Homo sapiens: one gene and its partners. The protein of the gene in region 1 purifies or fractionates together with the protein of each later gene. This does not show direct contact. Each region holds a gene or a part of one and is shown in the gene's direction. Other genes may lie near its edges.

Evidence for each region.
Region 2: the proteins of WDR25 (region 1) and LRP6 purify together in Homo sapiens (affinity purification with mass spectrometry; one large-scale study listed by BioGRID and IntAct). This does not show direct contact.
Region 3: the proteins of WDR25 (region 1) and LRFN3 purify together in Homo sapiens (affinity purification with mass spectrometry; one large-scale study listed by BioGRID and IntAct). This does not show direct contact.

What each region holds. Positions count from the first base shown.
Region 1 is NC_000014.9:100,463,463-100,467,113, forward strand, and holds part of WDR25 (WD repeat-containing protein 25), read left to right. Parts: intron 1-3,651.
Region 2 is NC_000012.12:12,257,013-12,260,663, reverse strand, and holds part of LRP6 (low-density lipoprotein receptor-related protein 6 isoform b precursor), read left to right. Parts: intron 1-3,651. UniProt on the Homo sapiens protein: Component of the Wnt-Fzd-LRP5-LRP6 complex that triggers beta-catenin signaling through inducing aggregation of receptor-ligand complexes into ribosome-sized signalosomes.
Region 3 is NC_000019.10:35,939,301-35,942,951, forward strand, and holds part of LRFN3 (leucine-rich repeat and fibronectin type-III domain-containing protein 3 precursor), read left to right. Parts: intron 1-109; 5' UTR 110-125; coding exon 126-1,540; intron 1,541-3,651. UniProt on the Homo sapiens protein: Cell adhesion molecule that mediates homophilic cell-cell adhesion in a Ca(2+)-independent manner. Promotes neurite outgrowth in hippocampal neurons.

The sequences.
Region 1 (3,651 bases):
GACTCCTTTCTGGTTTCTCTCTCTCCTCCCCTGGTTCCCAGCCTGTGAAACTTGGAGGCCTGGGGCTGAGATGTGGGACTCCTCTCTGTCCTGTCTGCACTTGCTCCCTAGGAGAGCTCATCCAGCTCAAGGCTGCGGCACAATTTCCACAATGGCATCCACAGCTCAGCCTCTACCCTGGGCCTCTCTTTTGAACATCACACTGGTACGGGAATGAGTCTTTATACTGTCTGCTGTCTGTCATTCAAAACTGAGCTCCAGGTCCTCCTTCCCTCAAACTTACCCCTTCTGCAGGCTGACCCATCCCTGCAACTCCACCCCTTTCAGTGCTTGGGCCAGGAACTGCGAATGTGTCCTGGGCTTTTCCCTTGCCCTCATATCCTACCTCCAGTCCAGGGAAGTCCTGTTGGTTCTACCCTCCAAGGCAGGCCACTTCTCTACTGCCTCCCACTGTTCCAAGCCATTTCCTCTCTCCCTGGATTCTTGCAGAAGCCTCCTGATTGTCTTCCTTCATCTCTCTTGCCCTTCATTCTCCTCCCTGCATGGCAGCTGGAGTGGTCCTACTGCAGTGGAACCAGCCCTCATTCCCCTCCGTTCCACCTGCAGAACCCTGGGATGCCCCAACGGCTTGTGGTTTTCCGACTTCATCCCTTTCTTACCACCTCCCTGCCAACCCCCAGCCTTGCTCACTTCTCTAGCTGCAGTGGCCCTTCTTGCTGTTGCTTGACCATGCCAGGCATACTCCTGTCACTGCCTGGAAGCTTCTTCCCTCAATTTCTACATAGCTGGCTTTCTCACCCCTTCAGGACTTCCTCCAAAGTCACCTCCTCAGAGAGGTCCTCCCTGGCCACCATTTCAGCCCCTTCCCTTGACCTTATAGAGCCCTTTCCTGGTTACTTTTTAATACTTCAGTCTTCACCACTGCCTTAAGGACTGTGGATTTTTATTTGTTCAGTGTCTGTCTCCCTCACTAGAATATAAACTCTTTGAAGGCAGAGATTTTTGTCTTATTTGTTTCCTGTTACACAATGCCTGGCTAATAGCAGGTCCTCAGGAAATCTTTGTTGAATGAATGAATAAATGAATGAGTTTCAGAGGAAACATTTGGGCATGTTTTCTTCGGAGAGCATTTTCCATCTCTCCCTCTCCTCATCTCCCACACCCCATCGCATCAACCCAGTGCATTTCATCTCCCCCACCCCATCTCATCTCCCCTACCTCATCTCCCCTCCCCATCTCATCCTCCCCTACCCCATCTCATCTCCCCTACTCCATCTCATCTCATCTCATCTCATCTCATCTCATCTCATCTCATCTCATCTCATCTCATCTCATCTCATCTTCTTTTACCCCATCTGCTCTCCCCTATGCCATCTACTCTTTCCTACCCCATCTACTCTCCCCTACCCCATCTCATCTCCTTTACCTCATTTCATCTCCTCTACCCGATCTGCTCTCCTCTACCCCATCTCAAGTCCCCTACTCCATCTCCTCTCCCCTACCCCATCTCATCTCCCCTGCCTTATCTACTCTCCCCTACATGTTCCACCCTCTCTTTGGAAGAGCTGCTGCTTAGTGTTCATAGCTTTTCCCTCTAGCCCTGCCCCTTTCCCTCCCTTCCTAGGAGTGATGGCCCTCCTCATGCATGTTTTTATAGCCTGGCTACAAATTCACGTATAAATGAGATCTGCTTTTTTTTTTCTTTGTGTGTGTGTGTGTATTTTTAAAAACTGTGGCAGAATAATACACAGCATAAAATTGACCATCTTCACCGCTATTAAGCATACAGGTCAGTGGCATTAAGCACATTCACAGTGTTGTGCAGTCTGCACCCCATCTGTCTGCAGAACTCTTTATCTTGGAAAACTGAAACTCTGTCCCCATTAAACAACTCCCCATTCCCCCTCCCCCAGCCCTGGCCACCACCATTCTACTTTCTATCTATCTCTATGATTTTGACTACTCTGGGTACCTCATATAAGTGCAGTTATATAGTATTTGTCCTTATGTGTCTGGCTTATTTTACTTAGCATAATATCTTCAAGTTTCATCCATGTTGTAGCAAGTGCCAAGATTTCTTTCCATTCTAAGGCTGAATACTATTCCACTGTATGGATAGAACACATTTTTACAATTCATTCATCCATCCATAGACACTTGGATTACTCCCCTCTTTTGGCTATTATTAATAATGCTGCTATGAACATGGATGTACAGTATCTTTTTGAGACCCTGGTTTCAGCTTTTTGGGCATTTACCCAGAAGTGGAATGGCTGGATCATGTCATAATTCTACATTTAATTTTTTGAGGAACCATCATGCTGTTTTTCACAGTGGCTGCACCATTTGACATGCCCACCAGCAGTGGACAAGGGTTCCAGTTTTTCCACATCCTTGTCAATGCTTGTTATTTTCTGTTTTTTGATAGCAGCCATCCTAATGGGTACAAGGTGGTGTTTCATGTAAAAACTTAAATGGCATTGTACTTCGTATATGCAGCTTGACTTATGTACTTAATATTAACTTTTTTACCATTTAACCATGTAAGCCCTGTAGATCTCGTTTATTTTACTATTTAAATAAAATTAAACTCATATTCATACATATTTTTGGAAAACAGCAGTTCCCTGTGCCCCATCTCCCTCCCGTGAATTCTTATTCCACTTTGAAGTCTTCTGGCTGTGTCTTCTGGCTGTGTCGTGTTTCTAAATGTAAATACTGCTGTTTCTTGATTTTTTCAGTTTGAGACCCCAGCTATTGACCCTTAGTGAGGAAGAAAGGAACTGAGCTCTCTTCACATTTTTTGAAGGCTACTCTTGACCTTTTGTTTTCTTAAGTGTAGACATTTACATAATCCCAGGAAACAAGGTTTCAGAGCTCTGATCCTTTGCATTCTGAGAACATTCGGGACTTGGCAGGTTGAATTTTCTTGTCTTTAATGAGAAGGTTATCCCTGGGATCAGGTTGGTAGAAGTGCATGGGTGTACTTTGTTTGGGTTTTTCTCTTATTAAAGAAAATGAAGCTTGGTTTTCCTAATGGAACAGGTCTGGAATCCACATCCAGTTGTGTGCCAGCCATTATGCCATGTGCTGTGCAGCCATTACCTCCTCAGCCTTCACCACTGCCCTCGGGGTGGCGCTCTTCTTATTCCCACTTCAGGGAGGAGAGGACTGAGGCCCAGAGAGGCAAAGCCACTCAGCCAAGGCCCGAGGCCTGCCAGCAGCCGTATCAGGTGGGAGGCACTCCGTTCTGACTCCCACACGCTGGCTGCAAGTGCTCCTCTGCTTCTCGGGTTCAGCCTCTGAGCCACCTGGGTGGTAGGTGAGAGCACTGCCCTCATCCTGCAGTGACAAGAAGGTAGGGGACTAGCACTGCTGAGTACCTCTGTGTGTCAGGCCCTGGGCCTACCCTGACATATTCCAAACTCTCCGGCAGTTCCCCTGGGCTGCACGGTGTGTTTGGCGGCATTTGCTGGGAGAGCTGGTGGAAAGCTAAGCTCAGGGGCTCTCACGTGGTGTGGCCCTGGCTCTGGGAATGTGCAGTTTTATACTTGATATCTTAGATCATTTTTCAGAAGTCATTGAGTGTAACAGGGTTTTCTCTCATGAGCCTCATACCCTCATGAAAGGCCAGCATGGGAAGGAGGGAAA
Region 2 (3,651 bases), on another chromosome or scaffold:
AACGCACAGTCAATAGTAGACATTGAATAAATGGTTGCTATTATTAAGATGGCCGAATTAAAAGAAACATTATACTCTGGAAAGACTGGTAAAACATTTTAAGTGTCGCTATGTCCTGGGCACTGTTTTTGGCAGTTGATAGTTTTAGGCCAGTGGTTTTGGAATTTTTTTTGATTCTTCTGCAACTGGAATAAAAGCTCCATAAAATACTTTTACTTATGGAAATTTCTGTTTTGTTTGATATAAAACGGAATGACACTAAATTTTTTTTCTTTTTTTTTTTTTTGAGACGGAGTCTTGCTCAGTCGCCCAGGCTGGAGTGCAGTGGCGTAATCTCGGCTCACTGCAAGCTCCGCCCCCCGGGTTCACGCCATTCTCCTGCCTCAGCCTCCCGAGTAGCTGGGACTGCAGGCCCCGCCAACACGCCCGGCTAATTTTTTTTGTATTTTAGTGGAGACGGGGTTTCACCATGTTAGCCAGGTTGGTCTCCATCTCCTGACCTGGTGATCCAGCCGCCTCGGCCTCCCAAAGTGCTGGGATTACAGGCGTGAACCACCGCGCCTGGCCTAAATTTATTTCTAAAGGATTGCAGCCATAACTATTTTAGGTGATGATTATTATAAATAAGCTACAGAACAGACAGTTCAAATGATTGTGATACTTATTAAAGAGTTAAGCATGGGCAAAATAATTTTATCAAGACATCTAATTGAGAAATTGCATTATTTGTTTACAACAATTATTCAGTTGGTGGATTTCTTTCTGCAGGATGGCTGAATGCTATACTGAGTTTCTGCATTGCATGTTTTCACTTCGGATAAGGGTGTTTATCTTCTATAAAGTAAGCCTCACTTCAGTGAATAAAACACTGTTTTATATGAGTAACTTTGAAATTTAGTCAAATATACAGACTAGGCAATCTAAGAACAGGCTGTTTGCTCTTAAAATTATTTATTTTAAAATACAATTTGTCAGTACATAAATGCAAGGAAACAAGGTTATTTGGTATTATTAACATATGCTTTTGTTTCTCAAGCTGTTCGTGTTTGCGGCAGTGAGTATTCTCACTAAAGGTTCAAGCTGTTCGGGTGTGAGGCTAGAAACTTTTAAAATGTGCTTGGACTCTTCGGTGAAAATTATTGATACTTTGATGCTGTGATCCTTTTAGCGGTATCATAACTTGTAGTTTCTGTAATATCTTGCTTGGAAGGACCTTGTATAAGTGCTTAAATATTTTGGAACTAATTTCAGGAGGAGATTGGGGATGCAAAATGAAATTATATTTTTAGGCAGAAAACTACATTAAGTTATGTAAGTTATTAACACCAGGCCTAAAGTTATTGATGAGACTCTCAATAAAAATAACATGACCAGCAGTAGTCTTTTTTTTTTTTTTTTTTTGAGATGGAGTCTCGCTCTGTCACCCAGGCTGGAGTGCCGTGCCATGATCTTGGCTCACTGTGACATCTGCCTCCTGGGTTCAAGTGATTCTCCTGTCTCAGCCTCCCAAGTAGCTGGGATTAGTAGGCGCCCACTATCATGCCTACCTAATTTTTGTGTTTTTAGTAGAGATGGGGTTTCACCATGTTGGCCAGGCTGGTCTCGAACTCCTGACCTCAGGTGGTCCACCCGCTTTGGCCTTCCAAAGTGCTGGGCTTACAGGCGTGAGCCTGCTGCACACAGCTGTCATTTTTTTTTTCCCAAGAAAATAGTCACCCAAATATTGGAAACCTACCTTTATCAAATTATGTATGTTTAACCAGGAGGCTATTTTCTCTAATGGTCTTAGTCATTGTTTTATCACTACAAGACCCAAACTACAAGTAAAGGACTGCAAGGGATAGGAGTCTTCCTCACTAATGATTAGCTTTATTGGTACGTATAATTTAAGTACTGTATATCCATATATCCAGTTTAAAGATACTATGTTTTGCAAGTCTGAGAAAGGTGACGAGTGAACTTCATTACCATGAATTCTTAGCTACACATTATATTGTCTTTATTTGTAACCTTCTAGATTTATGCTAATGCAGAAATAGCTCTTTGATGAAAAGTTTTTGAAGAGTAGACCTTTTTCCCCTTTATATGCACCATGTACCAGAGGTTTGCACATATTGAGCACTGTAAATTTTACATTTAAAGTAATATAAAAAGATGTGAATTTTTATGACATTTATTTGGAATGCCATTTTGTGTTTTGACTCAATCGTTCATTAGCTATAGTTAAATTATAAATTTGTAACGATTACAAAGATTTCTTAGTCTGGGTCATGGTGGCTCACACCTGTAATCCCATCTCTTTAGGAGGCCAAGGCGAGAGGATCACTTGAGGTCAGGAGTTCAAGACCAGCCTGGGAAACATCTATAAAAAATTAAAAAATTATCTGGTCACGATGGCACATGCCTGTAGTTTCAGCTGCTTAGAAGGCTGAGGCAGGAGGATCACTTGAGCCCAGGAACTCAAGGCTACAGTGAGCCATGATCATGCCACTGCACTCCATATCACAGACAAAACCCTGTCTTTCAAAATAAATAAATAAAGATTTCTTAGCATAGATTAGATATGTTAAATAGACTACTAAAAAATCAGCATATTCATATCTGAGATTGAATTCAAGGTGTGGACTATGTAACGTGTTTTCTGGTTTTAGGATATAACTATTGCACTGATATAATTAGTTTTTTTTTTTTTTTTGAGACAGGGTCTCACTGTGTTTCCTAGGCTGGAGTGTGGTGTGATGCTATCATGGCTCACTGCAGCCTGGACCTCCTGGTCTCAGGCGATCCTCCTGCCTCAGCTTCCAGAGTAGCTGGGACTATAGGCACGTGCTACCACGCCCGGCTCATTTTTAATTTTTTTTTTTTTTTTTTTTTTTTTTTTTTTGTAGAGACAGGGTCTTACTATGTTGCTCAGACTGGTCTCGAATTCCTGGGCTCAAGTGATCCTCCTGCCTTGGTTTCCCAAAGTGCTTGCGATTACAGGCATGAGCCACCATGCCTGGCCTCAAGTACTTTTTTCTTTCTTTCTTTTTTTTTTTTCATTAAGCCCTTTCTATCAAGTACTTTTTTTTTTTTTTTTCCTTGAGAGGGAGTCTTGCTCTGTCGCCCAGGCTGGAGTGCAGTGGCGTGATCTCGGCTCACTGCAAGCTCCGCCTCCCAGATTCATGCCATTCTCCCGCCTCAGCTTCCCAAGTAGCTGGGACTACAGGCGCCCACCACCACGCCCAGCTAATTTTTTTTGTATTTTTTTAGTAGAGACGGGGTTTTACCGTGTTAGCCAGGATGGTCTGATCTCCTGACCTCGTGATCCACCCGCCTCGGCCTCCCAAAGTGCTGGGATTACAGGCGTGAGCCACCGCACCCGGCCTGTCAAGTACTTTTTTAAACCAAGTTTTTTGGAGCTATAATTCACATACAGTAAAAATCTCCATTTTACAATGTCTAGTTCGGTGGCTTTTAGTATACTCACAGGGTTGTAAAACATCACCACTATCTCATTCCAGAACGCTTATCATCCCCTGCTCCCTCAAAACCCATACATTTCCCATTTCTCCCTTCCCTCAGCCTCTGGTAACCATGAATTTACTTTCTGTCTCTATGGATTTGCTTACTCTGAATATTTCATATAAATGGAATAAAATATGTGGCCTT
Region 3 (3,651 bases), on another chromosome or scaffold:
ACCAGCCCTTCTGCCCTCAGCCCACTGTGACCTTCTCTCCTGGTCTCAGACCACCCCCAGCCCCTGCAGAACCCCTCTTCTGCCCTCACGCCTCCCCTCTTCTCCGCAGGACACCCCTGCCCGCGATGGCCATCCTCCCGTTGCTCCTGTGCCTGCTGCCGCTGGCCCCTGCCTCATCCCCACCCCAGTCAGCCACACCCAGCCCATGTCCCCGCCGCTGCCGCTGCCAGACACAGTCGCTGCCCCTAAGCGTGCTGTGCCCAGGGGCAGGCCTCCTGTTCGTGCCACCCTCGCTGGACCGCCGGGCAGCCGAGCTGCGGCTGGCAGACAACTTCATCGCCTCCGTGCGCCGCCGCGACCTGGCCAACATGACAGGCCTGCTGCATCTGAGCCTGTCGCGGAACACCATCCGCCACGTGGCTGCCGGCGCCTTCGCCGACCTGCGGGCCCTGCGTGCCCTGCACCTGGATGGCAACCGGCTGACCTCACTGGGCGAGGGCCAGCTGCGCGGCCTGGTCAACTTGCGCCACCTCATCCTCAGCAACAACCAGCTGGCAGCGCTGGCGGCCGGCGCCCTGGATGATTGTGCCGAGACACTGGAGGACCTCGACCTCTCCTACAACAACCTCGAGCAGCTGCCCTGGGAGGCCCTGGGCCGCCTGGGCAACGTCAACACGTTGGGCCTCGACCACAACCTGCTGGCTTCTGTGCCCGCCGGCGCTTTTTCCCGCCTGCACAAGCTGGCCCGGCTGGACATGACCTCCAACCGCCTGACCACAATCCCACCCGACCCACTCTTCTCCCGCCTGCCCCTGCTCGCCAGGCCCCGGGGCTCGCCCGCCTCTGCCCTGGTGCTGGCCTTTGGCGGGAACCCCCTGCACTGCAACTGCGAGCTGGTGTGGCTGCGTCGCCTGGCGCGGGAGGACGACCTCGAGGCCTGCGCGTCCCCACCTGCTCTGGGCGGCCGCTACTTCTGGGCGGTGGGCGAGGAGGAGTTTGTCTGCGAGCCGCCCGTGGTGACTCACCGCTCACCACCTCTGGCTGTGCCCGCAGGTCGGCCGGCTGCCCTGCGCTGCCGGGCAGTGGGGGACCCAGAGCCCCGTGTGCGTTGGGTGTCACCCCAGGGCCGGCTGCTAGGCAACTCAAGCCGTGCCCGCGCCTTCCCCAATGGGACGCTGGAGCTGCTGGTCACCGAGCCGGGTGATGGTGGCATCTTCACCTGCATTGCGGCCAATGCAGCTGGCGAGGCCACAGCTGCTGTGGAGCTGACTGTGGGTCCCCCACCACCTCCTCAGCTAGCCAACAGCACCAGCTGTGACCCCCCGCGGGACGGGGATCCTGATGCTCTCACCCCACCCTCCGCTGCCTCTGCTTCTGCCAAGGTGGCCGACACTGGGCCCCCTACCGACCGTGGCGTCCAGGTGACTGAGCACGGGGCCACAGCTGCTCTTGTCCAGTGGCCGGATCAGCGGCCTATCCCGGGCATCCGCATGTACCAGATCCAGTACAACAGCTCGGCTGATGACATCCTCGTCTACAGGTGCAGGGTCCAGGCACTGGGGTAGCTTGGGTGGGGGAGTGAGGCAAGGGGAGGGTTGAGGGTACACCTACTAATACCCTACACCGAAGCACAACTGATAAGTGATGCTGGAAGGTTCCAAAAGAAATCAGAGAGCAAAAGTAAAAGAAATCAGGCAGCAAGGATAACAAGACTCTGGCAGAAAGGGTCAATGAAATCTGACAGCAGTGATAAAAAGAAGTCAGACAAGAAGGACGAAGTAAATGAGACAGCAAATGTTAAAATATATCAGGCTACAGGGCTAAAAAAGATCAAGCAATAAGGATAAACGAAATCAGGCTGCATGAGTAAAAAGAAATTAGGCAGCAAGAATAAATAGTAGTAGCAAACATAAAAAGGAAACCAGGCAGCGGGAGGAGAAAGTAATCAGGGCAGAAGAATAAAATGTTAATGGGCAAGGGTGGGTGGGGAAGATAAGGGGATAAAAATAAATTTAAGTTGTAAAGATAAAGAGAGAAACACCAGGTTTTCCAGATGACAGGACTAGATACTAGCTGGGCTGCAGGAAGAAAAGGAGATCAAACAGGAAAGCACAGGGAGCCCAGAAACAATGAAATAAGCAGCTCTGTTAGAAAAAGAAATCAGACCAGAGGTTAGAAGGAAATTGCAGGGAGGAGGTTCGATAGAGACTGGGCTTCGGTGTGTGTGGTGTGAACTATTCCATGTTTCAAGTTCTAATATAGTGACATCCAGATTTTTTTTTTTTTGAGACAGGGTCTCACTTTGTCGCCCAGGCTGGAGTGCAGTGGTGCAATCTCGGCTCACTACAACCTCCACTTCCCGGGTTCAAGCGATTCTTGTGCCTCAGCCTCTCGAGTAGCTGGGATTACAGACGTGCACCAGCACGCCCAGCTAATGTTTGCATTTTATTTTTAGTGGAGACGGGGTTTTGCCATGTTGGCCAGGCTGGTCTAGAAGTCCTGACCTCAGGTGATCCACCTGCCTCAGCCTCCCAAAGTGCTGGGATTACAGGCGTGAACCACCACACCCAGTGTAGATTTTTTCTTTTCTTTTTTTTTTTGAGACGGAGTCTCACTCTGTTGCCCAGGCTGGAGTGCAGTGGCACAATCTTGACTCACTGCAAGCTCCGCCTCCCAGGTTCATGCCATTCTCCTGCCTCAGCCTCCCGAGTAGCTGGGACTACAGGCGCCCGTCACCATGCCCGGCTAATTTTTTGTATTTCTAGTAGAGATGGGGTTTCACCATGTTAGCCAGGATGGTCTCGATCTCCTGACATCGTGATCCACCCGCCTCGGCCTCCCAAAGTGCTAGGATTACAGGCCTGAGCCACCGCGCCCGACAGATTTTTTATTTTCTAAATCAAATCAAACCTAGTTCAAGTTCCTTTTGCCAGGTAAACAGAAATATCCAGTTTGCCACACTTGTGGGGGATTCTCTTCTCTCTCCTGTTGTTGCAAACACAGAACCTGGGGTTTACACACTCCAAGAGGTGGCTCAGTCCAACTTGTTCCCCCAAGCTGGAGAGCACTCAGCACATCTGCAGTGACCGCATGTGGTCAGCAGTGGTGGCTGCTGACCTAGGTGCTGTTGACACCTCTTACCAAAGTCCAACCTTGCATGGATGGACTGCGGCTGTGGGTGAGTCCCTGTCCTCACGGCCAGGCTGGGCCAAGGGTGCAGCCCCAAGGCTGACTGTAAAGACTGGACCTCCCCAGGGTTGAGGACTGTTCCTTGGGGACCTAGTAGTACCTGGATGTCCTTTCCCTCCCTTGGGGCCAACACCTCAAGAAAAGGCCACTTGATTTCCATTTCAGTCCTGGCAACCCACTGAGCTCATTCTACTCCCTTTCTCAGACATGACTCGGAAGATTGCACGGAAGTCCTGCCCCTGAAAATCACACAAGTCGGCCAGGCGCGGTGGCTTAACCCCTATAATCCCAGCACTTTGGGAGGCCGAGGCAGGTGGATCACCAGGTCAGGAGTTTGAGACCATCCTGGCTAACACGGTGAAACCTCGTCTCTACTAAAAATACAAAAAATTAGCTGAGTGTGGTGGCACGCGCCTGTAGTCCCAGCTACTCAGGAGGCTGAGGCAGGAGAATTGCTTGAAC